Linked DNA regions of Homo sapiens. The main gene of each other region encodes a partner of the protein of the gene in region 3 in a complex. Each region holds a gene or a part of one and is shown on either strand. Other genes may lie near its edges.

Evidence for each region.
Region 1: SRRM1 (region 3) and TNFAIP8L2-SCNM1 share a complex: the UniProt entries of both Homo sapiens proteins name them as parts of the minor spliceosome.
Region 2: SRRM1 (region 3) and SNRPE share a complex: the UniProt entries of both Homo sapiens proteins name them as parts of the minor spliceosome.
Region 4: SRRM1 (region 3) and BUD13 share a complex: the UniProt entries of both Homo sapiens proteins name them as parts of the minor spliceosome.

Annotation. Positions count from the first base shown.
Region 1 is NC_000001.11:151,152,508-151,159,648, reverse strand, and holds the start of TNFAIP8L2-SCNM1 (TNFAIP8L2-SCNM1 protein), read right to left. Parts: upstream 3,001-7,141; 5' UTR 2,927-3,000; intron 2,472-2,926; exon of another isoform or gene 2,266-2,471; intron 984-2,265; exon of another isoform or gene 952-983; coding exon of another isoform or gene 397-951; exon of another isoform or gene 1-396. Other genes in the region: TNFAIP8L2 (tumor necrosis factor alpha-induced protein 8-like protein 2), read right to left, coding at 397-951. UniProt on the Homo sapiens protein: As a component of the minor spliceosome, involved in the splicing of U12-type introns in pre-mRNAs. Plays a role in the regulation of primary cilia length and Hedgehog signaling.
Region 2 is NC_000001.11:203,856,908-203,864,604, forward strand, and holds the start of SNRPE (small nuclear ribonucleoprotein E), read left to right. Parts: upstream 1-4,691; 5' UTR 4,692-4,752; coding exon 4,753-4,806; exon of another isoform or gene 4,807-4,820; coding exon of another isoform or gene 4,821-4,836; intron 4,837-4,939; exon of another isoform or gene 4,940-5,006; coding exon of another isoform or gene 5,007-5,048; intron 5,049-5,274; coding exon of another isoform or gene 5,275-5,288; coding exon 5,289-5,315; intron 5,316-6,755; coding exon 6,756-6,818; intron 6,819-7,697. UniProt on the Homo sapiens protein: Plays a role in pre-mRNA splicing as a core component of the spliceosomal U1, U2, U4 and U5 small nuclear ribonucleoproteins (snRNPs), the building blocks of the spliceosome.
Region 3 is NC_000001.11:24,660,284-24,667,306, reverse strand, and holds part of SRRM1 (serine/arginine repetitive matrix protein 1), read right to left. Parts: intron 6,589-7,023; coding exon 6,508-6,588; intron 5,998-6,507; coding exon 5,911-5,997; intron 4,648-5,910; coding exon 4,503-4,647; intron 4,125-4,502; coding exon of another isoform or gene 4,083-4,124; intron 493-4,082; coding exon 382-492; intron 325-381; exon of another isoform or gene 220-324; intron 1-219. UniProt on the Homo sapiens protein: Part of pre- and post-splicing multiprotein mRNP complexes. As a component of the minor spliceosome, involved in the splicing of U12-type introns in pre-mRNAs. Involved in numerous pre-mRNA processing events.
Region 4 is NC_000011.10:116,748,978-116,756,000, forward strand, and holds part of BUD13 (BUD13 homolog), read right to left. Parts: intron 1-7,023. UniProt on the Homo sapiens protein: Involved in pre-mRNA splicing as component of the activated spliceosome. As a component of the minor spliceosome, involved in the splicing of U12-type introns in pre-mRNAs.

The DNA.
Region 1 (7,141 bases), about 130 Mb from region 3:
CTCTAAGGGCCACCTTCCCCTCTTCTGTCTTTAGTATCCCCAAAGGGGTTCTCTGGGCTGTGCCTCCTTTCCTTGGTTCACATGGGAGGGGGCTTCCCTGTTTCAGAAGTCCCTTATGGGAGAAATAGAGATCCAAGTTTCACTTCACCTTTTTCAGGCAGTTCTGTTTCCTGTCCTGGGGCTGGAGTGGGAGAGAGGCCTCACCCCTCAGCATTGCTCCTTCTCCACTAGCTGTTTGGGGGTGGGCTGGTCTCAGAGTCAAAAGCACTCTTGGGAAGGAATGAAGCCTGAAGATTGAAAAGTGTTAGTGCCAGGTGAGCAGGGTTAGGAAGCCCATTATCTGTGTTTTCTCAGTCAACCATTTTGTCAAGGTGGAATGTGCTAGGCTCAGGGCTCTCAGAGCTTCCCTTCGTCTAGCAGCTTCCTGAGTCCGTCACAGATCTTGCCAAGGTGCTGAGTGAAGTCAGGCCCATAGAGGGCCGTGAGCAGACCTGGGTCAGAGAAGTGATCAAACACGTGGCGGATGCGGCCATGTGACTTGGGCGTGAGGTGGTGTTCCACCAACTCTAGCAGCACATCCCGGCACTCGGTCAGCAGGCCAGCCAGAACAGCAGCCTCGAAGGTGAAGTCTACCTCACCAAAGCTAAGTGCCGTCATGGCACCCTGCCGCAGCTTCTGGCGAAAGCGGGTAGCCAGGGCCAGCTCACTGGGGCCAAAGGAGCCATTGCGGTGCAGCACAGCCACCTTGATGGCCACTTTGATCAGGTCCTTGATCACGCGCTGGGCCTGGGGCCGGCTGTGCGTGTACTCCTTGGACACACGGTAGAGCTCATCTAGCACCTCACTGCTTGTCTCATCTATGAAGAGATGAGCCACAGAGCGACCCGCCATCTTACTCAGTAGCTTCTTCTCTGCTTGCAGTGCCAGGCTCTTTGAGCTGAAGGACTCCATGGGTCCTGGAGAGTGGGGTATGTGGTCAGTCACTAGAAGAAAGGCCACAGGCTTCCTTAGAAAGAGAGAAATGGCTTTTCCCTTTTCTGTTGCTTCTTTAGTTTCCATGTCATCATCATCTTTGTTTGTCATCCTCTCCGCCCCCTGGGGCCCCTCAGTCCTCTATGCCTTGCTCCTGCCTGCTTTTTCCCCTTAGTGCTGTAGCAAATCTTGACTCCAAAACAGCCCACGGGAGTGGCGATAGCCCCGGCTGGAGGAATGTGGGCACACGGGAGGCTAGCCTAGCACAAGTTACATCTCAAGGGGAAGTAGGCTGTTGCTGCTGCAGTGAAGACAGGGCTTACCTGACAGATAATTCTTTTTTTTTTTTTTTTTGAGACGGAGTCTTGCTTTGTCACCCAGGCTGGAGTGCAGTGGTGTGATCTCTGTTCACTGCAACCTCCACCTCCCGGGTTCAAGCTATTCTCCTGCCTCAGCTTCCCAAGTAGTTGGGATTACAGGCACCCACCACCACGCCCGGCTAATTTTTGTATTTTTAGTAGAGACAGCGTTTCACCATGTTGGCCAGACTGGTCTCGAACTCCTGACCTCATGATCTGCCCACCTCGGCCTCCCAAAGTGCCGGGAATACAGGCGTGAGCCACCACGCCCAGCCTGACAGAATTCTTACAGCTACCATTTTTGGACACTGACTCTGTGCCATATGTCTGTGTGGCATAGATATTACCATCCTTGTTTTACAGCTAAGCAAATGATACTTACATTAAGTAATTTACCCAAGATCAAACGCAACTCATTTTTTGGCCCCCAAAGCCAGTGGCAGCTAGTGCACTATACTTCCTTTAAAGTAAGAAGCATAAGCATCCCAGGAATCCTAATAGGAGTAATAACTAACATTTACTGAGAACCTACTATATGCAAGTGCTTTACGTCAGTCATCTTAGCCTTCCCAATCCTGTGTAAGGTTAGGGTAGGTATCCCCATTTTGCAATGAGAAAACTGAAGCGAAGAGAAATATAGCAATTTGGCCAAAGTCACTAGTAAATTATAAAGATGGGCTTCAAACCAAATAATCCAGAGAAACCTCCTTCCCCGGAATGCTCCCAGTGTGGTTAAAGCACACTGAGGAAGCACGAGAAGCCAACACCTCAAGAAGGGCAGGCAGTCCTGAAGGTCTGAGCCTTCTGCTACACTGAACTCAGGACCCTCTTGGTGGCATATCAGCTCCATGTGTCCAGGGTTCTCTCCCCATGGTCTTCGCCTGTGGTTCTTCTGGTTGTTTTGCTTCTTACTTCCCCCTCCTCTGCTCTGCAGGATGTGGCTGTGACCGCAGTGAGGAGCAGCCTCGCCCTCTCCCCCAAACCAAAATGGGAGTCTGAAGAGGCAGAGGAGGTGGAGACTGTGGGGGTTTTTTTCCCCAGCTGAATCCTTCCAGTGGAAACCTGAACCTTGCTTTGCTCCCAGCTTGCCTTGGGGCTTTCTGGACCATGCTCCCCAGCCGGAAGAGGAGATTGCTCCATGTGAGCCTTCCTTCCTCCTTGGCCTTCCTGTTACCCAGCTCTCCATTGCCCCCATTGCCGTCTCACATTTATTCCGCTGTCTTCTCCCTCTCTCCCTGTTTCAGTCTCCCTTTTTCTCTTGTCTGGGTCCTCCCTATGATCCTCTGGCCTGGCCATACTCTCCCTCTGGCCCTTACCCATCTATCTCCTTGTTTCCTAAGATTTCCTTGCATTTCGCACACATCCATATGGATGTGGATCCACCTGCATCCCTCAGCCCTGCCCCCACCGCATCCAAAACCAGGTCTTTCAGAGGCTGCCTTGCCACCAGAAAAACTAAGCTAAGCTCTACAAAGGACCCAAGAATTGTACAAGCGAGAGTTTCACAATATGAAAAGCTAAGACTGAAAGAGCTAGAGATTCCTCTGCCACCATTACCCCTAAAGTCTACCATTCTGTCACTGCCGGTCCCTCACCTGCTGTGCTGGGTGCCAGTCTTGCCTTGGATGTTCCCGGAAAGCTTACAGAATGGAGAAGCTTCACTTAGTGTGAGAGCCCTTTGGCTTGGCCCCACCCCTTGAGCCCCGCCTACCTACTCTCTGCTTAACCTCCGGTTCATCACTTCTGTCACCAAGAAGGCCTATGGCCCAAGAGCAACCTAGAAATAAGACAAAGGTCAAAAAGAGTGGAATTCTGTTGGAAATAGTCTCAATTCTTTGAAGGGGGGAAAGGGATTTGCATCCTCCACTCTCAAATTGCTTCTTTCTTTTCTTGCTGCCCAGTTCCTGAAGATCCTGTCCTTACATTTCTACAGTACTGGGAAGGATGTAAAGCCCAAATTTCTGGGGTAGGAGGTCAGTGGGAAAAGTTCTGAAGATTGAAAGGTGGTGCTGTGGGGCAAGTATTTAATATATTATTCCAGTGATTGCCAGGTAAGAGCACAGACTGTCACAACCCTTAATACTGAAGGGAGGAAGGTGCTGGGACCAGGGCTGCTGCACCACAGGTGACCAGCAGGTGCCAGCACAGCACTGAATCACTAGCGTAGAGGAACAAGCCTACTGAGTTGCCTTTTTTTTTTTTTTTTTTTTTTTTTTTGAGACAGAGTTTTGCTCTTGTTGCCCAGGCTGGAGTGCAATGGGGTGATCTCGGCTCACTGCAACCTCTGCCTCCCGGGTTCAAGTGATTCTCCTGCCTCAACCTCCCAAGTAGCTGAAATTACAGGCCTGTGCCACCATGCCTGGCTTATTTTGTATTTTTAGTAGAGACGGTTTCACCATGTTGGCCAGGATCGTCTTGAACTCCTGACCTCAGGTGATCCACCTTGGCCTTCCAGAGTGCTGGGATTACAGGTGTGAGCCAACGCACCCCGCAGGGCCTACTGAGTAGGCTACTGTAGTAGCTACTTTGTAGCTGCTAAAGGGATACAAAATGAGGGGAAGCCACAATTGGGTTTTGTTTGTTTGTTTGTTGTTTTGTTTTTGAGATAGGGTCTCACTCTGTCGCCCAGGCCACAGTGCAGTGGCATCATCACAGCTGACTGCAGCCTTGACCTCCTGGGCTCAAGAGCTCTTCCTACTTCAGCCTCCCAAGTAGCTGGGACCAGAGGCTCACAAGCCTTCCTTTTTTTTGTAGAGAGGAGGGTCTAACTATGTTGCCCAGGCTGAACTTCTAAGCTCAAGCAATCCTCCTACCTTAGTCTCCCAAAGTGTTGGGATTACAGGCGTGAGCCACTGCACCCATCCTGGAAGTCACAGTTGTTGAATGAGACAAAAACACTTGCTATCAAGAATCTTATGGGGAATCTGGCGAGGGAAATAAGCTTAAACATAAAGAACAGTAATACTAGTCAAACAATGCCATTAACTTTAATGGAGATTTAAATAATTTTGAGAGTAAAGAAGCTTAATTATGATAGGGCTGAAGAGGTAGACTTGGAAAGATAGATTCAACTACTTAATAGCCAGAGATGGGGAAGAAGTCCCAGATGATGGGGACGGCATAAGCACATGCAGGAAAAAAACAAAATACAGGACGTTCTCAGGAAGTGGTGATTTATGTCTGGAATGTAAGTTGTTTGAGAGATAAGTGAAGAAGGAAAAAGATCAGATCATGGCAAACTTTAAAAAAGTTGCCCCAGGCCGGGCGCGGTGGCTCATGACTGTAATCCCAGCACTTTGGGAAGCCAAGGTGGGTGGATCACCTGAGGTCAGAAGTTTGAGACCAGCCTGGCCAACGTGGTGAAACCCTGTCTCGGCTGGGCATGGTGGCTCACACCTGTAATCCCAGCACTTTGGGACACCGAGGTGGGCGGATCACGAGGTTAGGAGATCAAGACCATCCTGGCTAACATGGTGAAACCCCATCTCTACTAAAAATACAAAAATTAGCTGGGCATGATGGCACATGCCTGTAGTCCCAGCTACTCGGGAAGCTGAGGCAGGAGATTCGCTTGAACCAGGGAGGCAGAGGTTGTAGTGAGCCGAGATCGCGCCTCTGCCCTCCAGCCTGGTGATAGAGTGAGACTCGGTCTCCAAAAAAAGAAAAGAAAAAAGAAAAAGAATAAAGGGAATAAAAATATAAGAAGATGCAAATACAATAATAACTTCTGGATTCAGAATTCTGCTACCTAGTCTTTACCTGTTTTCCTCTCCAGCTTCAGACTCCCCTCCCTCCCTCCCTTCCTTCCTCTCTCTCTCTCTTTCTTTCTTTTTTTTTTTGACAGAGTCTTGCTCTGTCCCTGTCACCCAGGCTGGAGTGCAGTGATGCGATTTCAGCTCACTGCAACCTCTGCCTCCCAGGTTCAAGTGATTCTCCTGCCTCAGCCTCCTGAGCAGCTGGGATTACACTGCCACCACACCTGACTAATTTTTGAATTTTTAGTAGAGACAGGGTTTCGCCATGTTGGCCAGGCTGGTCTCGAACTCCTGGCCTCAGGCTATCTGCCCATCTTGGCCTCCCAAAGTGCTGGGATTACAGGCATGAGCCATAGCGCCCGTCTGTAATTTGTGATTTTATTAACTGTCTACCCACTAAGCTCAGATTATCTTTTAGTGTCTACACAGTGCTTGGCACATACTGTGGTCAATAAATATGTGCTGAAAGAATAAAGTCAAAACATATCCAAGAACCAGGATATGAGGGGAAAATGGTAGTAACATAGGAGTCACATGTTATAATGTTCATTTACTTCATTCATGGGGAAGTCTTTTATTTTCTCTCTCATTTTTTTTTTTTTCTTCAATTGAGACAGAGTCTCACTCTGTCGCCCAGGGTGGAGTGCAGTGGTGCAATCTCGGCTCACTGCAACCTCTGCCTCCCGGGTTCAACTGATTCTCTGCCTCAGCCTCCTGAGTAGCTGGGATTTCAAGCACCCACTGCCATGCCTGGCTAATTTTTGTATTTTTAGTAGAGACGGGGTTTCTACCATCTTGGCCAGGCTGGTCTTGAACTCCTGACATCGTGATCCACCCACCTCAGCCTCCCAAAGTGCTGGGATTACAGGCATGAGCCACCACACCTGGCCAAGAACAATTTTTTTTTCGAGATGGAGTCTCGCTCTGTCACCCAGGCTGGAGTGCAGCGGCGTGATCTCGGCTCACTGCAACCTCCACCTCCCGGATTCAAGCAATTCTCCTGCCTTAGCCTCCCGAGTAGCTGGGATTACAGGCATGTGCCACCATGCCCAGCTAATTTTTTTGTATTTTAAGTAGAGATGGGGTTTCACCATATTGGCCAGGCTGGTCTCGAACTCCTGACCTTGTGATCCACCCACCTCGACCTCCCAAAGTGCTGGGATTACAGGCGTGAGCCACTGCGCCTGGCCACAAATTTTTTTTAGAGATAGGGTCTTGCTATCTTGCCCAGGCTGGAGTACAGTGGCTCACACTGCTCACTGCAGCCTTGGACTCCTGGACTCAAACAGACCTCCTGCCTCAATCTCCCAAAGTGCTGAGATTACAGGAGTGAGTCACTGTGTACCCTGGCCAAATGACGGTATCTTAAATGTGCAAAACACTTTTGAATTTGCAAAATGTTTCACCTACAGGATCTTATTTGATCCTAAGAAGTAGGCAGGAAGGTAGTATGTCCACTTACAGAAGACAGAATCAGACTTAGAGATAAGTAGTTTATCCAAAGCCATACTCCAGAGATGAATCTAGCTAAGTCTCAATGACTTTCAATGGTGCTCTTTCCACTGTATAATCTACAGGAAGTGAATAGTACTTTTTTGAGCAATTTCTACTTTGAAGCAAAATGAAGATATTTTGCACTTAATTGGATAAACTTCAGTTATTTGGAAAAGTATTCAGGATGGAACAGTCCGATGTTTGTTTTAGGTGAGGTTTTACCATGGTTAAGATCAATACTCTCATATCAGTTCAGAAAGAGTAAGTTTAGTGTGATTTAAAGCAGTCAAGTAAGTCAGCCTGACATAGCTGGAGATAGTTCACAGCTTTTACTCTTTTTTTGTTTGGGGTATTTATTTATTTATTTATGAGATCGAGTCTCACACTGTCGCCCAGGCTGGAGTGCAGTGGCATGATCTCGGCTCACTGCAACCTCTGCCTCCTGGGTTCAAGTGATTCTCCTGCCTCAGCCTCCCAAGTAGCTGGGATTACAGGCGCGCACCCCCACGCCCGGCTAATTTTTGTATTTTTAGTAGAGACGGGGTTTCACTATGTTGGCCA
Region 2 (7,697 bases), about 180 Mb from region 3:
CCTTATCTGAGATCTGGCCCTGCTGGCTCCACTGAGTTATTTTGAAGTAAATCTCAAGCATAGTATACCTTGCTTTTTTTTTCATCATGTATATTGGATATCGTTTCATATCGGGACACAAAGACCTTTAATCTTAGTAACAGTTGCATAGAATTGCACCCTATGAAGATGCAGTAATTTATAATAGTCCCTATTGATAGACATTTAGGTTGCTTCCCATCTTGGTATTTTAAACAATGTTGTGATGATTACATTATACCACACATGTAAGTTTGTATGGAGGATAAGTACCTAGAAATAGAGCTTAATAATTTACAGTACCACTATTTTTTCATTTCCAATCTAATAAGAGAAATAGTACTTCAGTGTAGTTTGGTGTGCCTTTCTTTTTTTTCTTTTGTGACAGACATTCTGAATGTAGCCTTTCTGTTATGAGTGAAGCTGGGCATCTTTTCATGTTTAAAGACCACTCCTATATCCTTTGCTACAAACTGATGCTCACATCCATTGCCAATTTTAATTTTGAGTCTTTTTTTGTTTTGAGACGGAGTCTTGCTCTGTCACCCAGGCTGGAGCGCAATGGCGTGATCTCCACTCACTGCAACCTCCGCCTCCTGGGTTCAAGCAATTCTGCCTCAGCCTCCCGAGTAGCTGGGATCACAGGCGCCCGCCACCACACCCAGTTAATTTTTGTATTTTTAGTAGAGATGGGGTTTCGCCATGTTGGCCAGGCTGGTCTTGAACTCCTGACCTCAGGTAATCCGCTGGCCTCAGCCTCCCAAAGTGCTGGGATTACAAGAGTGAGCCACCGTGCCCGGCCCAGGCTTGGCTTTTAAAAGTGCTGGTAGAGCAGCTGGGCGCAGTGGTTCACACCTGTAATCCCAGCACTTTGGGAGGCCAAGGCAGGTGGATCAAGAGGTCAGGAGATCAAGACCATCCTGGCCAACATGGTGAAACCCTGTCTCTACTAAAAATACAAAAATTAGCCGGGCGTGGTGGCACATGCCTGTAATCCCTGCTACTCGGGAGCCTGAGGCAGGAGAATCGCTTGAAGCCAGGAATCGGAGGTTGCAGTGAGCCAAGATTGTGCCACTGCACTCCAGCCTGGTGACAGAATGAGACTCCGTCTCAAAAAAAAAAAAAAAAAAAAAAGTGCTGGTAGCTTCAACCTTGGTTTCCTAGACCCCTAATCCCCCATATAAGAAAGCATACCACCCTTCTAGAGAAACCGTGTGGTGAGGGCTGAGACTACATAGAGATAGGGACCCAGCTGAGGCCAGTCTTCCAAAGATACACACCAAAGCCGTAGATATGTCTTGTGGAGCAGAAGAATCACTCAGCTGAGAACCTGCCCAAATTCCTGACCCATGAAGTCATGAATTATAACAAAATGGTTGTTGTTTTAAGCTACTAAGTTTTGGAATATTTCTTACACATCAGTAAAGACCAGAATAGCATTCTTTTTCAGGAACTCTACATATTAGTAAAATTAATCATTTTTCAGATGTAATGCAAACATATTTTTCCTAGATGTTTTGACTTTGTTTATTGTTTCCCTTTTTAGTCATGCATAATTTTATTTTTATGTAGTTGCATTTATCATTCTTTTTTTCCCCTAAAAACCAGCTAGAGCATACAATTGAGGAAAAGATAGAATTTTTAAGAAGAAGAGAGATGAAATAGCTAAGGTTGAACTTAAGAAATCACAAGGTCTATATGAAGACAACCAAAAACTTTTGAAAGATTCAAAGGAAAGTTTGAACAAATAAAAAGACATCATGTACTTGGATTTAAAAAAGTAATCCTGGCCAGGTTCAGCTAACACGTGTAATCCTAGCACTTTGGGAGGCCAAGGCAGGAGAATCACTTGAGGCCGGGAGTTCAAGACCAGCCTGGTCAATATAGCAAAACCCCGTCTCTACTAAAAATACAAAAAGTTAGCCAGGTGTGGTGGTGCACACCTGTGGTCCTAGCTATTCCAGAGGCTGAGGTGGGAGGATCGCATGAGCCCTGGTGGGGAGGTTGTAGTGAGCCGAGATTGTACCACTGCATGTCAGCCTGTGCCATATCAGGAGATCCTGTCTAAAAAGAAGGTGGGGGAGGGCGGTGGGGAAAAATAAATAAACACGCTGTCTTAAAGTCAGACAACATGACACTCTGTTGGGTTTGGGTGGGGGAATGATTTTTTTAAAGACTGGGTCTCACTATGTTGCCCAGGCTGGAGTGTAGTGGCTATTTATAGGTGCCATTACAGCTCACTGCACTCTTGAACTAGGCTCAAGCAGTCCTACTACGTCAGCCTCCCCTAGTTCTTGGGAATACAGGCCATGCCACAAAACCCAGCTAGGGAATCTTTTTTTTTTTTTTTTTTTTTTGACAGGGCCTGGCTCTGTTGCTCAGGCTGGAGTGCAGTGGCATGATCTCTGCTCACTGCAACCTCTGCCTCCCGGGTTCAAGAGATTCTCCTGCTTCAGCTTCCAGAGTAGCTGGGACTACAGGCAGGCACCATCAGGCTCGGCTAATTTTTAAATTTTTTGGTAGAGCCAAGGTCTCATTATGTTGCTCAGGCTGGTCTTGAACTCCTGGGTTCGAGCAAGCCTCCTGCTTCTGCTTCTCAAAATGCTGGGATTACAGGCATGAGCTCGCGCACCTGGCTGAAATTTTTTTTTTTTTTTCTTTGAGACAGAGTCTTGCTCTGTCACCCAGGCTGGAGTGCAGTGGCGCGATCTCGGCTCACTGCAACCTCTGCCTCCCAGATTCAAGCAATTCTCCTGCCTCAGCCTCCTGAGTAGATGGGACTACAGGCGCCTACCACTACGCCCAGCTAATTTTTGTATTTTTAATAGAGACGGGGTTTCACCATATTGGCCAGGCTGGTCTCAAACTCCTGACCTTGTGATCTGCCTGCCTCAGCCTCCCAAAGTGCTGGGATTTACAGGCATGAGCCACTGTGCCCAGCCCTGGCTGAAATTTTTTAAAGGAAATAGTTATCCCATGCATTTGCCAGCTTTGTGTAGTTTATTTATTTATTTATTCTTATTTATTTTTTTGAGACGGAGTCTCGCTCCGTCACCAAGGCTGGAGTGCAGTGGCATGATCTCGGCTCACTGCAACCTCTGCCTCCTGGGTTCAAGTGATTCTCCTGTCTCAGTCTCCCAAGTAGCTGGGATTACAGGCATGTGCTACCATGCATGGCTAATTTTTGTATTTTTAGTAGAGACAAGGTTTCACCATGTTGCCCAGGCTGGTCTCGAACTCCTGACCTCAGTTGATCCACCTGCCTCGGCCTCCCAAAATGCTGGGATTACAGGCGTGAGCCTGGCCGCTTTGTGTAGTTTAAAAATCACTTTCAACTCAACCCCTTTCTGAAGTCGTTATTACTATTATCCCCATTAAACAGAAGCCCTCAGAAAAGCTAATTTTGATTCTGCCATTTGCCCTAATCCGTGTTCCCTTAGGCAAGTCCTTTCAAAAGTCTAAACTTCAGTTTCCTCCTCTATAACATGTGTATGCCAATTAAGTGAAATCTCTGCCAGGCCACAAGCCATGACACAATGGAAAGGTAGGTGGACTTTGGGGTCAGGCACACCTACAAATTCCAGCTGCTCCACTTAGTAGCTGTGTTATCCAGGGAAGGACATGTTCTGACACTGGCTGACGCCTAACTGTGTGCACACATAGACAATTATTTCATTGAATCTTTAAGCCCCTGAGTAAAGTTAATCTTTACTATAATCTCCGTTTTGGAAACTAAGCCAAGACATGGCGAGGCTGAGTAATTTATCCTTGGTCACCAACTCTAAAAGAGCTGGATTTGCGCCCAGCATGTGGATTTCAGCGTCTTCCTGGTAAATCGCCACCCTCAGTTGCCACCTGAACAGTAACTCTCCACGAAATGGATGAGAATTGAATCCGTAACTGGAGGGAACCAGGCGTCTGGCTTTGGAATGCAGACCGCCTCTGGCCGACTGCCAGAGGTGGGAGGCCTGAAGTTTGGGCTCCTTGCCGCCCTACCCTTTCCACCACAACGCTGCTATCAAGCCTAAACTCCAGCAAAATAGGCTTTAGGAAAGGCACGAAATTAACTCATTTTACACATAGAGATACACACTGGGACGATTTTGGCTTTTCAAGCTAACTCAGAAAATGGAGATACAGGCCGGGCGCGGTGGCTTACGCCTGTAATCCCAGCACTTTGGGAGGCCGAGGCGGGCGGATCATGAGGTCAGGAGATCGAGACCATCCTGGCCAACATGGTGAAACCCCGTCTCTACTAAAAACACAAAAAATTAGTCGGACGTGGTGGCAGGCGCCTGTAGTCCCAGCTACTCGGGAGGCTGAGGCAGGAGAATCGCTTGAACCCTGGAGGCTGAGGTTGCAGTGAGCTGAAATCGCGCCACTGCACTCCAGCCTGGGCGACAGAGCGAGACTTCGCCTCAAAAAAAAAAAAAGAAAAGAAATTGGAGACAGGACGGCACTCCTCCTACCACGGCCACTATACAACCGAAGGCACCTCCTCCCGCCTCCCTCCAGGTGGCGCTGTAGGACCGGCCCACCTTCCACAGCGCAGACGCCTCAGTTTGGCCTCCCTCGGAGGCCATGCAGCGAAGAAACGTGACTTCATGGCTAGAGGGGCATTTCCCAGGAGCCGCCCATGCCGCCGCGTGACCTTCACACTTCCGCTTCCGGTTCTTTATTCCGGAAGTTGCTCTCAGAGGCAGCGTGCGGGTGTGCTCTTTGTGAAATTCCACCATGGCGTACCGTGGCCAGGGTCAGAAAGTGCAGAAGGTTATGGTGCAGCCCATCGTATCCTACGCAGGATGTCAGGACTAGGAGGTTCGGGTCAGAATACGGGGTGCGAAGGCGCAGGCTGAGGGCAGGCCTGGGATAGTGGAGTACGGATCCACATCCCATGAGCCCCCGGGGCTACCAAGACTGGAAGAAAGCGCGGGTAGTTGAACCGTGATGGTGGGGAGGTGGTCTTGGGGGGACCCCTGCCGTGGGGAATGCAGGAATGGACGCGGCAAAAGGAGGGAAGAGAACTTCAGGTGCGGAGTGAAAACGGGAGTTAACGGTTTTGGGAAACTCCAGGGGGATGAAAGTGGAATGGATGTTCTTTAGTCTTTAGAAGACCCGTAACGAATGCCCAGCTGGGCACTTGTTGTTTGCGTAAGCACCAGACCTCGCGTTTAGTAAACAAAGGTGAGACGGGAATAGCGTCGTCCGGTTGTTTCAGGAAGCAGAGTCTATGCTGCTTTTGTATTTTTTCCTTAGCCACTGTGGTGCAGAACCTCATCTTCAGATACTTACAAAATGTACGTAAGTTGCTTGTTTCGTAACTACTTTTTAAATAAGAGGTGAACTGATTTAGTTTTTTGTGTTAACCTGAGCGATCGCTGTGTTCTAGAATTTAAAAATAGATGTAACTGGAGATTGGAGGGTAATTGAGGGGAAGGAGTACTTAGAAAGCACTAATGTGATGAAGTGGTGTGTATCCATGCCACTTCCCAACATGCAAAGAATTGTATCCATTACTTTGCAAGATCAAAAATACTTTTTAATTCCAAAAAGTATTATTAGCAGACTTGACCATGGTATTTGGGCATCAGTAGTTTTGTTAGTAGTGATTATGGCTAGAACATTGGAACCTCTCCCCTTTAGGATGAAACATTGGAAGAAAAACCCAGCCAACTTAAACCATGTCAAGAGGTGGTGTGTTTAATACCTGTGGGAAAACTTAAAGACGAAAAAAGGAAGAGAGAAGGGGTAGCTTCAGAGGAGTTTAGTGGCAGCTGCTTTCCTTTGAGGGAAATTTTAGCAACTTAAATTTTATAGTGTGATAACACAACTGAAAAACATTAATTTCAGGTGATAATAATTCTTAACCACCTGAATTGAGGGCTCCTGTCCTAGTTGTTAGGTGTGTGACATGAGAAGGCTTTGTTTTGGAACTGGATTTTGCTGCAGGAGATAAGCCCTTGGTCATTAGAAATTACTGCTTTGTGCTATGCTGTCAAAAACTTTCACTCTTAATAGATTGAGACCAGAAGCAGTAAGAAATATTGAGTCCCAAAATCACAGGAAAATTATTAGCTTATACAGTTCCAATATAGAACTTATTAAATGAAAATTCTTTTTGAGGTTATTATTATTGGTGAATAATTCTTAGATATGGGCTAATTAGTTAAAACTTTTGACTTACATTCATTACAATTTTTTTAGGAGCCATATTTCTCTTGTCGTTTGACCAAAATGGTTAGGTTTTGTATACTTCAATTTTTTGGGGGGCGGGGGGCGGGGAGATCTTGCTTAATGTTGCGCAGGCTTATATTGAACACCTGGCCACAAAGCGAATTATTCCGCTTTGGCATCCCAAAGTATGGGAACGGTGTGAATCGAGGCACCTGGCCTGTTTTTCTTTTCTTTTTTTTGAGACGGAGTCTCACTGTGCCCAGGCTGGAGTGCAGTGGCGCGATCTCAGCTCACTGCAACCTCTGCCTCCCGGGTTCAAGCGATTCTCCTGCTTCAGCGTCCCGAGTAGCTGGGACTACAGGCGTGCGCCACCACGCCCAGCTAATTTTTTTTGTATTTTTAGTAGAGATGGGGTTTCACCATGTTAACGAGGATGGTCTCTATCTCTTGACCTTGTGATCCACCTCCCTCGGCCTCCGAAAGTGCTGGGATTACAGGCGTGAGCCACCGCGCCCGGCCCTATTTTTCTTTTTTTAACGTTTCCACTTTTATGATTATTTCAGAGATCGCGGATTCAGGTGTGGCTCTATGAGCAAGTGAATATGCGGATAGAAGGCTGTATCATTGTGAGTATCCAGGCGATTTCATCTCATAGCAGTTCGGTCGTAGAAAAAGACTTAACAGAAAGTGTCTAGCCAGAACAGTGTATAAAAAGTCAAAGATCCAACCTAAGGAAAGTTTTTCAGGTGCTGCTGTTTAGCCTTTTTTCATTGTTGATAGATAAGGATTGGGTAGTTTTTAATAGGGAAAATAACTTTTAATTCATTTTCTTTCCTCTGTCTATGTTGAGAAGAAAATTTGTATTTGATTTTTGAGAAAGGGCTTTGTTCTGTTGCTTAGGCTGGAGTGCAGTGGCACAATCATGGCTCGTTGCAGCCTCAACCTCCCGGGCTCAAGTAGTCCTCCTGCCTCAGCCTCCCAAGTAGCTAGGATCAGAAGCGTGCACCATCACAGCCTGCTAAATTTTTATTTTTTATAGAGATGAGGTCTCACTGTGTTGCCCAGGCTGGTCTCAAACTCCTAGGCTCAAGTGATTCTCCCACCTCAGCCTCTCAAAGTCTTGGGATTACAGGCATGAGCCACAACGCCTGGCTGAAAATTAACTTTTAAAAATTATTCGAAAAAAAAATATTGAGCGACAATGTTAGTATGGAGAGGGGGGACAAAATAAATGAAATTAGGGAGGGTGGGGTTATTTGTTGTGGGTTAGGTGATACCTGAATAGAGAGCTCAGTGGGGTTAGTTAAATAAGGCTTCTGGGATAGCAGGCTACCCTAAATTTTTTTTTTTAAGTTGGGGTCCGGCTCTGTCACCCAGGTGCTCTCAGCTCACTGCAATCTTGAACTCCTTGGCTCAAGTGATTTTTCCACCTCAGCCTCTAGTAGCTGGGAACTATAGGCATACACCACCAGGTCCAGCTAATTTTTAAATATTTTGCTGGGCAA
Region 3 (7,023 bases):
CCATTTAAAGTATACAATTAAATGATTTTAGTATATTCATATAGTTCTGCAGCTATTACCATCCCCATGTCCACCCCACCCTAATCTGTTTTCTATCTCTATAGATTTGTGTATTCTAGACTTTTCATATAGATGGAATCATACGTGTTCTTTTATGACTGGCTGAACAATGCTAGTCTGCTTACTCTAATAAGATATAATCATCAGAAAGATTCAGAGATCCTTTTGTAGTTCATAAGCATGATGATTGGGTTTTCACATGCACACATGAGCTGTGCCTCTCTCCAACCTTGTTAGGAAGTGAGCACCATTACTCATCTGATGTTATCAGGGGCGGGGGGAGTTGGGGAGATGCTCCAGTTAGCATATTTGACAAAGTACCTTCGTCGTGGTGGTGGTGTGGGAGTCCTGCGCCGTCGAGGAGGAGGGGCGGGAGAAGGAGACCGTCGCCTTCTGGTGGGTGGTGGGGATGGACTTCTCCTCCGTCTACCACTAAACCAAGAAGAATTATAGTTAATTTTTTTTCTTTTTTTTGTGTGTGTGTGATGGCGTCTCACTCTGTCGCCCAGGCTGGAGTGCAATGGCATGATCTTGGCTCACTGCAACCTCCGCCTCCCAGGTTCAAGCAATTCTCCCCCCTCAGCCTCCTGAGTAGTTGGGATTACAGGCACCCATAATCATGCCTGGCTAATTTTTTAAAATATTTTTGTAGAGACGGAGTTTCACCATGTTGGCCAAGCTGGTCTTGAACTCCTGACCTCAGGTGATCTGCCTGCCTCAGCCTCCCAAAGTGCTGGGATTATAGGTGTGAGTTACCACGCCTGGCCTATATAGTTAACTTTGAGTCAGTGGCATTTATAGTTAAGTGACCCAGAAGACACGGTTTCAATTATCATTAACCCCAAGGGCAGCAATGGTTACTAAGTTTCAGAACAGTGTTTTTCAAACTACAGGTCAAGATCATCAGTCAAGACCCTGGGTGGCAGCATTAAAAAACTTAATAAAACCAGAGTGTTTTACTTGTGACAAGGGTAAGTACCGTTTTGTGAAATTTTTCTTTTACTCTGGATCACAATACCAAACATTCTTGACATGACACAGAGTGAAAAAGTTCGGCAACAGCACATAAGAGCACTGCTTTTTATTGGGGATGCACATTAGAACCACCTAGGAAGCTTATGTGAGATTTATGCCTACCAGGTCTGGGCTAAGGTCCAGCCAGGTGTTTTTGGGAAAGGCTCTCCAGGTGATTCTAATTCCTTATTAGGAATCAACTGCTTTAGAGACTCTAATACAGAAATTCAAAAATGCCAATAGTCACAAGTGGCTTAAGACCCAAGTCTGGACGTCTCTGCTCCAAGCTCTTAATTTTTTTTGCCCAGGACAGGACTCATGCTTCCTGTGAATCTGGAATTATGTTTTGTCTTGGTTCCCGTTAGAAACTAAGAAATCTCTGTTAACTGAACAGACAAAATCCTAAAAGTCACCACTAAATTTTTCAACTTAAATCTGCTTATGCTTTGTGGGGACTAAGACCTCACACTAAATACATATAAAATATTCAAAACCAGGCTCTATCTCCCCTTCTTTTCTTGAGACAGAGTCTCGCTCTGTTGCCCAGGCTGGAGTGCACTGGCACGATCTGGGCTTACTGCAAGCTCTGCCTCCTGGGTTCACACCATTCTCCTGCCTCAGCCTCCCAAGTAGCTGGGACTACAGGTGCCCGCCACCACACCCAGCTAATTTTTTGTATTTTTAGTAGAGACGGGGTTTCACCGTGTTAGCCAGGATGGTCTTTATCTCCTGACCTCGTGAACCACCCGCCTCGGCCTCCCAAAGTGCTGGGATTACAGGCGTGAGCCTCTTTTTTTTTTTTTGAGACGGAGTTTTGCTCTTGTTGCCCAGGCTGGAGTGCAATGGCACGATATCGGCTCACTGCAACCTCCACCTCCCGGATTCAAACGATTCTCCTGCCTGAGCCTCCCGAGTAGCTGGGACTACAGGCATGCGCCACCACGCCCGGCTAACTTTTTTGTATTTTTAGTAGAGATGGGGTTCCGTCGTGTTGGCCAGGCTGGTCTCAAACGTCTGATCTCAGGTGATCCACCCAACTCAGCCTCCCAAAGTGCTGAGATTACAGGCATGAGCCACCGCACCCGGCCTCTATCTCCCCTTCTAAAATACGATACTGAAGCATAATTCCAAATAATCCTTCCTCCATCTCTAAATCCTAGGAACCTGATGGCAATTTCTAATGGCATTAAACTTGAAGCTGCTGGTATATAACTTAAAATACTTTTTAAATGACGAGAAACAAAACAAAAACATCCTGGAGTAGAGCAATAAACATTAGTGTTGATTTTACTGCTGTGAGGAATCTCTTTCCAGAACAGAAAGTAGTGCCATAATTTGGTGGGGGGGTGGGGAGGGAAGGGGAGATGAAAGAGAAGAAATTGCACCACTAATCTAACTCTGTAAAGCAATTGTTTAGTTGCTGTGCTAGCAACTTCACAAAAGCCAGAGATAATTATAGCTGGGAAAGGAATGCTTTAGCAGCCAAACTAATCTTTTTTAGGTTTTTATCTTTTATTATCATGGAGCAGTTTCCTCCACAGTGTAAATACCCCGTGCTTTGCTCCATCACAAACACTGCTCACTGGTTCCTTTCCAAGAAAACACTCTTATTGATGAGATTACCTAAAACAACACAGCTTCAAAAACTGAGCTACAAAAAGGACAGTGGGATAGCTTCAGCAAGGATAAATACTTCAAAATTCAGTGGCAGCTAAGGCCCCAAAAGCAGAAAGCTGGTTAAGACAGACTAGTGTAATGCCAAATGTATAGGTCTAAGATCCAACTTTGTCACTTTGCGGCCCTAAGAAACTACCCCATCAGGGCCGCTATCTTCTCACTTATGAGAGTAAGGCCTGAATTAGGGATTTGGCTCTAAAATTTTACAGTTTTATGGTCACAGTGACACTAATAATCAAAAGTTTCAATAAAGATATGCAGGTCGGGCCCAGTGGCTCATGCCTGTAATCCCAACACTTTGGGAGGCCGAGGCGGGTGGATCACCTGACTTTAGGAGTTTGAGACCATCCTGGCCAACATGGCGAAATCCCTTCTCTACTAAAAATACAAAAATTAGCTGGGCATGGTGGCATGTGCCTGTAGTCCCAGCTACTCAGGAGGCTGAGGCAGGAGAATCGTTTGAACCTACAAAGCAGAAGTTGCAGTGAGCCGAGGTCGCACCAATGCACCCCAGCCTGGGTGATAGAGCCAGACTCCATCTCAACAAAAAAAAAAAAAAAAAAAAAAAGAGAGCTATGCAACCCACCTTTCTAGTACTGGAAAGACTGAACAGGGCCAAAGCCTTCCATTCGCTTTTATTTATTATTATTATTATTATTATTATTATTATTATTATTTTTGAGAGGGAATTTAGCTCTGTTGCCAGGCTGGAGTACAGTGGCGTGATCTCAGCTCATTGCAACCTCCGCCTCCTGGGTTCAAGCGATTCTCCTGCCTCAGCCTTCCGAGTAGCTGGGATTACAGGCACGCGCCAACACTCCCAGCTAATTTTTGTATTTTTAGTAGAAATGGGGTTTCACCATGTTGGCCAGGATGGTCTTGATCTCCTGACCTCGTGATCCTCTCACTTTTAATATTTCTAAAGTTTCTCCCTAGTTTTTCCTTGCCCTCCCTAATGTCACCACAAATACAAAGTCCCTCCCCCCAAATCTAAGGAGCAATAATCCTATCTCTGGAAAAGTATCCAGATACTGTTAAAAATCTGCGTGCTGCTTGATGTAAGTTGATGCAAATTATCACAAAAGAGCACAACCAGATATTAAAAATCTAAGTTCAAATAAGGGTCTAAACCAAATAGCTCATGTATAATTCTCCCTATCATTAATCTAATGTGTTAAAAAAAATACTCAAACCAAAACAACTTAGGATCTGCACATTCACAGCCACAGCCACCATATATTTAAGAATGAGATGAGGTCACCTAAATAGGAAATTAAGTCACTACAATTTTTGACATGTAACCCTAATTTACAAAGTAGTGTCTAACCAACCTTTTAGTCACTGGCGATTGCCATCGCTTTCCCATCTGCATCCTGAGAGCAGTGGAGAAAAACAAATGTCAAGAATTCCATTCACTAAATTATTTACTTGGGTGGATTAAGTACCATTAATGGAGACATTTTTAAATATTCAAAGATGTTCAGGAGTTACTGCTATAATAGTTTGGTTTATTTTTCTAATCATGCACACATATATGACATGGTGGTTTAAAATTTACCAATTCTAAATTAATTATTAATAACCACCAATAAAGCAAAAACAAAACAAAACAGAAACCCTAAAAAGCAAACAAAAATCCAACCACATCCAAATACTTGAAGGAGTTAACCAAATTCTCAAATAATCCCAAGTTATCAAATTTCATCACAATTACAGAACATCAGTGAACATCACTGAAGCAAAGATGTTACCGAGGGGAAGTCTCTTTTTGGCGCTTTCGTGGTGATGGAGAAGCACTCCGGGAAGGGGAATGTCTCCGCCGCCTGCCAACCTCACCATTCTTCACATGGGATCTCTTGGGTCGTTCATCTTCTGAGGAGGAGGAGGAGCCAGAGTCTATAATTACAAAATTAAAAAAATATTACATTAGGTTTGTGCTTGAATCTGTCCAAGTTTTCTGAAATCTAGGTGGATGGAGTGTTCACTAGGGTAAGCAAGCATGTATACAGGCCATCAGTTCTGAACAGAATCATTATCAATATATGATCAATGATTTCAAAGCCAAGCATATTATTTAAATAAGACATAGAAATAATTTCCACAGTGTAATCCAATCAAGATGGCATACTCTAAGAAGTTTGAGCTGGGCACGGTGGCTCACCCCTTTAACCCCAGCATTTGGGAGGCCAAGGCAGAAAGACCGCTTGTGCCTCCTGAGTAGCTGGGATTACAGGTCTGCACCATCATGCCTAACTAATCTTTGTATTTTTAGTTGAGACAAGGTTTTGCCATGTTGGCCAGGCTGGTCTCGAACTCCTGACCTCAAGTGATCCATCTACCTCAGCCTCCCAAAGTGTTGGGGTTACAGGTTAAGCCACCATACCCAGCCTGGTATATTCTTACAATAAAAAATGCAAATAGTAAAATAATAGGGTAGATTATTATTATTTTTTTTGTGGAAACAAAGCCTTGCTCTGTTGCCCAGGCTCCCAGGCTGGAGTGCAGTGGCGCGATCTCAGCTCACTCACTGCAACCTCTGCCTCCTGGGTTCAAGGGATTCTCCTGCCTGGGCCTCCCAAGTAACTGGGATTACAGGTGTGCGCCACTATGCCCGGTTAATTTTTGTATTTTTCGTAGAGATGGGGTTTCGCCCTATTGGCCAGGATGGTCTTGAACTCCTGATCTCGGCCTGCTCACCTCGGCCTCCCAAAGTGCTGGGACTACAGGTGTGAGCCACTGCGCCCAGTCTAGATTTTTAATAGGGAAAGATGTTCTAAATATACTGTTAAGTTAAAAAGTGAGGCAACATATCTACAGTTGAGCTTCTGTGGGGTTTTTTCTTTTCCTTTTTCTATATGCACAGAAAATTTCTGAATAAAAGCTTTAGGAGGTTGGAAAAAGAATGATACGTTTCCAATTTTATACTTCTGTTTTCTGTTTCACTATTGTATCCTAGGGACCTATTACTTTTATAACAATGTAACAGAAAATTAAATTTTGCAAAAGGACTTAAAACCAAAAAAAGAAACAATCCTGCCTCCTCAGACAGATTTCTATGTAGGCAAGTAAGTACTCATGCTGCACACACAGATGTTTATATACCAAGTATTTTTTAATAGGAAATACAGGTAGAAAAAAAACTTTCATCACCATCCATACCAGATGAAGACTGCTGGTTTTGTCGTCTGTATTGGCGTCTCTGCTGCACAGAATCTGCTGCAGCCATTTTGCCACCTTTATCTTCTTCTGAAAGATGGATGCATTTAGAAAGTGTTTCTTTAGTTAAGCATATAGAAAATTTGCAATTTGAATAGGAAAATAGTCTCTCAAACCTTCATTTGGTTGGATCAAAAATACAACTACTATATATTTTTTTTAAAAAGAGTTTAAAATGCCAATTCACAGGCTGATTTAGACTATCTTCACCAAATATAATAAAATTTATTTAGGCATTTACTACAGGTCAGGCTGGTGCCAAGCATTTTACAAGCAGATACAGTTAACTGTCAAAAACCTCTACTGTCCCTATTTCGGAGATGAAAGAAGAAAGGCTCAGATAAGTTAATTAAAACAGAAACAGTTAAATTCTGGAATGGGGGATTCCACCCAAGTCTGTCTGCCTTCAGAGTCTTAGCTCTTACCCTATACTTAATCTTCAAGCAGAAGGGGATGACCAAATGTGCAAAAAATCAAAATCAGCTTTAAGAAAAACAAAAACAAACAAACCAAAATCACAAAAAAAAACAACAAACTTACCCGATTCAGATAACTCTACTTTTCTAGGCTTCGGTGCTGGTGAAGGGGATTCTCTTTTCTCAGTACCTTTATGTTTTGTCACTAAAAAAGAATAAGAGTGGAAAAAAGCTTACGTACAAAAAAAGGTCTATACAAGATGCTTTTCTTTTAATTTTTAAAAATTTATTATTATTTTTAAATAAAGATGGGGTCTCACTATATTAGTCAGGCTAGTCTTGAACTCCTGACCTCAAGCAATCCTCCTGCCTGAGCCTCCCAAAGTGTTGGGATTACAGGCACAAGCCACTGTGCCCAGCCAAGATGCCTTCCTGCTATTACAAAAATGGGTGTGACTACTCTCAAAAAGAATTTATGAAGACTTAAAAAATTCCTGTAAGACCTTGTTGTCATATCTGAACATTATCTGAAGTGAGACAAGAATTTTTAAATGTTTAATGAAAAGCCTCAAAAAGTTCTACAATGATTTTCAAATCTTGAGATTCTCCCAAGAAAACCAACAGTTAAAGGAAATTGGGA
Region 4 (7,023 bases), on a different chromosome or scaffold from region 3:
CTCAAAAAAAAAAAAAAAAAAAAAGAAAGAAAGAAACAAAAAAGAAAAGAAAATATTTAAGGCATATGCAATAGAATCAAAGGGACAAAATATATCATTCATCCTTTTCTTAGTCCTTGTTCACACCCTTCCCCCACTCTGACAGCTATTTCAAACGTTTGCCACTCTAAAAGCCTGGTTCTCTCTCAGCTGATGTCCACATCTTATATTTTATCCATTCATTACACAAACATTTATTGAATTTTCATTATATACTAGGTACCATGGTAGACACTACATGAAAATGAGTATGACACAGCACCTGTCCTGATGAACTCCCAGACTAGTGGAAGAGAGAGACATTTAAACAAATAAATTAAAAGAACAGCATAAACTCTGGTAGAAATACGCATGGGGTGTCATGGAAACAGAATGGGTATCTTAATCAGCTTGGGGGAGGTATGATAAAAAGGTGACATGAGGGTTGGGCAAGAATGATCAGTAAAGGCTCTGTGTTAACTACAGCACTGGGGATGGAAGGGCCAGAAAGGGTCTGGAGGTCATTTCAGAACAGAATGAGCAACAAGAACAAAGGCACGGAAATAAGAAGTGGCCTGGTATGTGCAGCAAACCAAAGGCAAACTGGTATGGCTGGAACCTGAAGTATGACAAAGGGAACAGCCATGAGTCAAAGTTGGAAAGGCGCAGAGGCCAATGCATAATGAGCTGCGTAGGCCATGGTAAAAAGCTTAGATTTCATCCAGAAACGATGGGTTTAAAGCAAGAACTTAAACTGCATTTCAAAGAGATCACTCTGGAGGGGATCTGGGGCAGGAAAATCACTGCAATGGTCCAGGCAACAGATGATGAAGGCAATGATAAAGAGGGACGGAAGAGAGAAGACACAGGAGGCAAAATTAGTAAGACTAATTAGCAGCACTAATTGATTAGGTACACAAGGACAAAGAAGGAGGAGGCAAGTTAGAGAGCACAAGAGTAGGAGCAGGCTTACAGTAGAAGCTGATGAGTTCAGCTTTGAATACAATGCATTTGAAATCTCTCAAGTCTAAATCAATAGAGAAATCCAACAAACAGCTAAATACACCAGACCAAGATGCAAATACTGATTTGGAAATCATGTACATATAGGTCATAGTTGAAAACATGACTAGGTAAGAATCAGCCAGAGGGAGCACATAGAGTGAGAACAGCTAAAAATTATGGATGGAGCCCTGGGAAAGACTTAAGAGGTGCACAGAGGAAGAGGAGTTTGCAAAGGTGGCCAAGAATGATCAGAGAAAAGAACCAGGAGTAGGGTGTCATGGAAAACAATACAGGGGTGAATTTCAAGGAGGTAGTGAGTGGACCTCAAATCCCTTTAATTACCATGCATTCTCTTGGTCTTCTTATCTAAACTTCTTAAAAAGCCTGTATTCACTATTTGTTTCCTCACTTTTCATTCACTCCTTAATACATTAGAACCTGGCCATTGTTTCACTACACAACGGAACTAGCCCTTTCAGGTCATCACTGACATTCCTTGTTGCCAAATCCAATGACTCCTCCTTCCTCTTCCCCAAATCAGCAAACAGGTCCCACCAGCTCACCCCTGACCACATCCCCACTTCCTATTCTCTTACTAACCATCCTTACTACCACTGCCTGCAAGTCGTAGTTCAGACACTCATTACTTTCAGCCTGAGCTACTGCAAAAGCCTTGTATCTGTTCTACTTCCAATCTTGTACCTTTCAAATCCTTCATATTACTGCTATAATGGATTTGTCTATCTAAAATGCAGAGCTGTTTTTAATCCTTCCGTGTCTCCCCTTTACCTCTAGGGTGAAGACCAAGCTCCTCAGATAGGCTTCCAGGGCCTTCTGTGATCACGGTCTGCCAACCTCTCTCATCCATCTCACGCTTTATGCTATCCAACAACAGCAAATTACTTAGGGACCCCCACCACCTGGTAACACCATGGTGTCTCATAGCCTTATGACTCTGCACATATAGGACCCTCTTCCTTTAATATCCTTCCTTTCCTTCTTATCTTGGCTGGTTACCAACATCCCTTAAAACTCAGCTCCCACATTTCATCCGTTAGGAAGCACTTCCTGATCACTCACATCCTCCTAAGGCTCAACTTACTCTTCCTTTGTGCTCCCAAAACATCTTGAAAATCTTCTATAGTAACACTAACCAAACAGCGTTGAAACTGTCTGTCTTCTATTCTAGATTGAAAGTGAGCTCCTGGGCTCAGGGGCTATCTCTCTTTAATCATGGAATCCCTAGTACCTACTACCTAGCTGCTTACACTTATAACATGTATGCTAAGACTTTCCCTTAAGGGATGAGTGGAGTGAGTAACAGAGGGCTTTAAGAAGGGAAGCTTGGCCGGACATGGTGGCTCACGCCTGTAATCCCAGCACTTTGGGAGGCCGAGGCAGGTGAATCACCTGAGATGAGAAGTTCGAGACCAGCCTGGCCAACATGGTGAAACCCTGTCTCTACTAAAAATACAAAAATTAGCTGGGCGTGGTGCTCACGCCTGTAATCCCAGCTACTCGGGAGGCTGAGGCAAGAGAATTGCTTGAACCTAGGAGGCGGAGGTTCCAGTGAGCCAAGATCGTGCCATTTTGCACTCCAGCCTGAGCAACAAGAGCGAAATTCCGTCTCAAAAAAAAAAGAAGGGAAGCTTATTATAAATGGCATCCTCTCCAACCTTAGAAGCATGGATGGTATTCCAAAGCACCAAGGAAACCACTGTTTTTTACCTTGGAAATAAGGTCTTAAGAGAGTTACACTAATATGATAATACAAAGGACATATGAATAACAAACACCAAATCCTAAGCAGAATCAGAAAACAAATTGCAGGAGAACTCACAGTGGAAAGAGCTTTGGACCAGAGAATCAGGAACGCAGAGTTCTAATTCCAGCTTTCTCAGGGAAATTGCATGACTCTAGGCAAACTGCTTATTTATTGGGCCTCAGTTTCTCTTTTTTTTGAGACGGAGTCTTGCTCTGTTGCCCAGGCTGGAGTGCAGTGGCACGATCTCGGCTCACTGCAAGCTCCGCTTCCCGGGTTCACGCCATTCTCCTGCCTCAGCCTTCCGAGCAGCTGGGACTACAGGCGCCCGCCACCACGCCCAGCTAATTTTTTGTATTTTTTTTAGTAGAGACGAGGTTTCACCATGTTAGCCAGGATGGTCTCAATCTCCTGACCTCGTGATCTGCCCGCCTCGGCCTCCCAAAGTGCTGAGATTATAGGCATGAGCCACCGCACCCGGCCCCGTTTCTCTTTCAATTAAGAGAGGCTGGGTAATTATCTTATGGGTTTTTCCAACAGATACTATATATCTGTTCCGGAAATATTCCCTTGCAGCAGGCCGAAAAGAGACAAAACTAGAAAAGATGATGAAAGATGAATAACAAAAAGAAAGCAAGGGTGACAAAGGGAAATAAGAGAAGAAATCTAGGATAAAATCAGAACAAGAAGTGGAAAAAAGCAACTGAGAAAAATGAAGACAAATTAAATACTAGTAAAAAAAAACTAGGTCAGGGAGAATTCTAAGTTTTGGGTCCAAAAATTAAAAAACAAAAAACAAAAACTCGGTAGCAGGGAACATCTGTAGGGTTGTGCTATAAAAAGATCTACTTCTGGCTGTATGTATGGCAAATGAGTGTTCTGAAAAATCCTCCTTCTACCAAAAAGCCTACATACAGTGAACTGCAAACGGAACTAGTAAGCTAGCCTGTAACCACAGCTACCCTAAAGATATCTGCCAAGATGAGGAACTACAGTCAACTTATAGATATCTGCCAATATCAGAAAGAAGAGCCTTAAATTTTTTTATTCTGGAGTTGGGGTCTCACTATGTTGCCTAGCCTGGACTTAAACTCCTGGGTTCAAGCGATCTTCCTGCCTCAGCCTCCCAAATAGCTGGTACTACAGACACACGCCACCACACCTGGCTGTTGGATTTTGACGGCACCCCGAGGGACAGAAGACAACGCCTTAGGCCCATATAAGGTGGGGAGACAGATTCTAGACATTGCAGAGTAACCCGAACAGACTAACCTATCCTCAGTTAGCAACTATAAAACCTAGACAAAACAAAAAAAATAGGTATTTGAAGGTGTGGAAGAGTGACCAAAAGTAAGTATGAACTGGATGAAGTCTATATGTGAAAAGAGATTTGCTGGAGGGCAACTTCCCAAACAGCATGGCTCATGAAGGCAGAAAGCCACAGGCTTACTGGCTTGAGGAATTAGTGCAAAGTGGGCAGAACAGCTAGGAAATTAGGGGGGAAATCTTGGAAGAGAAGGAACTACAAAAGAGATGAACCTCAAAATCTACATACAAACCCTAGTCAAATCCTTGGCTAACTGTTAAATGACACATGTGCAGAGAAAATACCATCAGGCCAATTAAAAAAATGGCAGCTAGAAACTAAAAGAACTGAGCAAAGATTGTAGCTGCCGTCCACTGCAAAGGAGACAGTTTGGAGTTCAGCTATGTTAACTACCTGCTAGAATAAAAACTAACACACTTAAGAGGAATACAGTGTAACAGAACTCAAAGTCTCTACAGTGTATCATTCATGATGCGTAGTAACAATTTTAAAAAGTGACCAGACAGGTAAATAAACAGGAAAATGTAATACACACTGAAGAAAAAGCTGTCAATAGAAACCAATCCTGTGGTGAATCCAATGTTGCAATTAGCAGACAGGACTTCAAAGCACTAATTACATATCATAAATATTTTCAAGAAGAGGAAAATGTCTCATAATGAACAGATGGGAAATCTCAGCAGAGAAATGTAAGCTATTAAATGGAAATTTTAGAGTTGAAAAACAAAATAAACCAGCTAAAACAAAAAATCCACAATTGATAGTAACTGATAGAAAAATACAAACACAAAAAACCCAGAATACAGGCGATCTAAGATCTAAACACCTTGACCTCACTGACTTTTATAAAACACTACCTTATATAGCTACAGAATATACGTTCTCTTCAAGTGCAAAGGAAACATTCAGAAGATAGACTATCCACTGGGCCATAAAACACACCTTAACAAATTTCATTTTTATTATTGTTTTTTGATACATGGTCTCACTCTGTCATCCAGGCTGGAGTGCAGTGGTGCAATCACAGCACATTGCAGCCTCGACCTCCCTGGGCTCAGTGATCCTCCCACCTCAGCCTCCACAGTAGCTGGGACTATAGGCGTGTGCCACCATGCCCGACTAATTTTTGTATTTTTTTGTAGAGACAGGGTTTTGCCATGTTGCCCAGGCTGGTCTCAAACTCCTAGGCTCAAGCAATCCGTCTGCCTTGGGCTCCCAAAATGTTGGGATTACAGGCATGAGCCACTGTGCCTGGCCAACAAATTTCAAAAGATCAAAATATTACAGTATATTATCTGACCAAAATGGAATTAAATTATAAGTAAATAGCAGTAAGATATCTAGAAAAGTCCAAATATTTGGAATTAATGCACTCCTAAATAACCCATGGAGCAAAGAATAAACCAAAAGGATAATTAGAAAATATTTTGAACAAAATCCAACATACATTCCTGAAAACAAAACTCTCAGCAAAACAGGAATAGAAGGGAACTTTAACTCCATAAAGGATATCTACAAAAAACCTATACAGCTACAACACATTTAATAAATGTGTTGTAAAAACTAAATGTTTTCTTCCTGAGATTAGGAACAAAGCAAAGATGTCTGCTCTCACTACTTCTATTCAACATCTGCACTGAAGTGCTAGCTAATGCAACAGGGCAAGGAAAAGAAACAAAAAGCATCTAGATTGTAAAGTAAGAAATTAAACTGTATGCAAAGATGGAAGACCCTCTAGGTACAAAATCTGATGGAATCTATAAAAAGCTATTGTACAAAGTGAGCTTTACCTGAAGGAAAACAACTGACAATACAGTGTAACAGAACTCAAAGTCTCTACAGTATATCATTCATGATGTCCAGTAACAATTTAAAAAAGTGACCAGACAGGTAAATAAACAGGAAAATGTAATACACACTGAAGAAAAAGCTGCCAATATAGAAACCAATCCTGTGGTGAATCCAATGTTGCAATTAACAGACAGGAAGGACTTCAAAGCACCAATTACATATCACAAATATTTTCAAGAAGAGGAAAATATCTCATAATGAACAGATGGGAAATCTCAGCAGAGAAATTAAGCTATTAAATGGAAATAGCTCAAGCAATGGAAATGCCAGTGATAACATTTAAACTTTCAAGTGTAAATTAGAATTCTGAAAAACTGTGAACTCTTTAACTTCCCATTATTTAAAGAGTTTTGTGATAAGACCGGAAGTGATGTTAACAAAAGTGATTTTCTGATATTGTATAGTGGAAATATGTCAACATTTGGAAGGTCTGAACAACTCAGCAAACCAATATTTTACAAATGACCAATGCATGATGTTATAAAATCATGCATGGGTAAAAGATCCACTCAAAGTATTAAAAAAATTAATATAACAGTAAGGAAAGTTCTTTGATCTGGTTTCAGGTTCCACATAGCTCACCTTTAAGAAACCAGCACTTGTTGAGTTTTTGTGTAACATTAAGAAATATAATATGCCTTCTCTTTCTAACTACCTATGTGTGAGGCTAAATTTTCTTTCTATACTTCAACTGAACAAATCACAACAGACAAATACAGAGTCAAGTTACCTATTATTAAGTCAGACATTAATGAGATTTGCAAAAATGTAAATCAATGCCATCCTTCTGTTTTTTCACTTGGAAAATGTAATTATTTTTCATTTAAATATACAGTAATTATGTTAACATAATTAGTTTATTTTTTTTTGAATGAATAAATACTTTTTAAATGTCTGAGTTTTAATTTATAATATGGTAAATATCAATATATATAATCCACATCAACAAAAGCTTTTTGAGGTCATCAGTAATTTTTAAGAGCGTAGGCCAGGCACGGTGGCTCAAGCGTGTAATCCCAGCACTTTGGGAAATCGAGGCAGACAATCATATGAGCCCAAG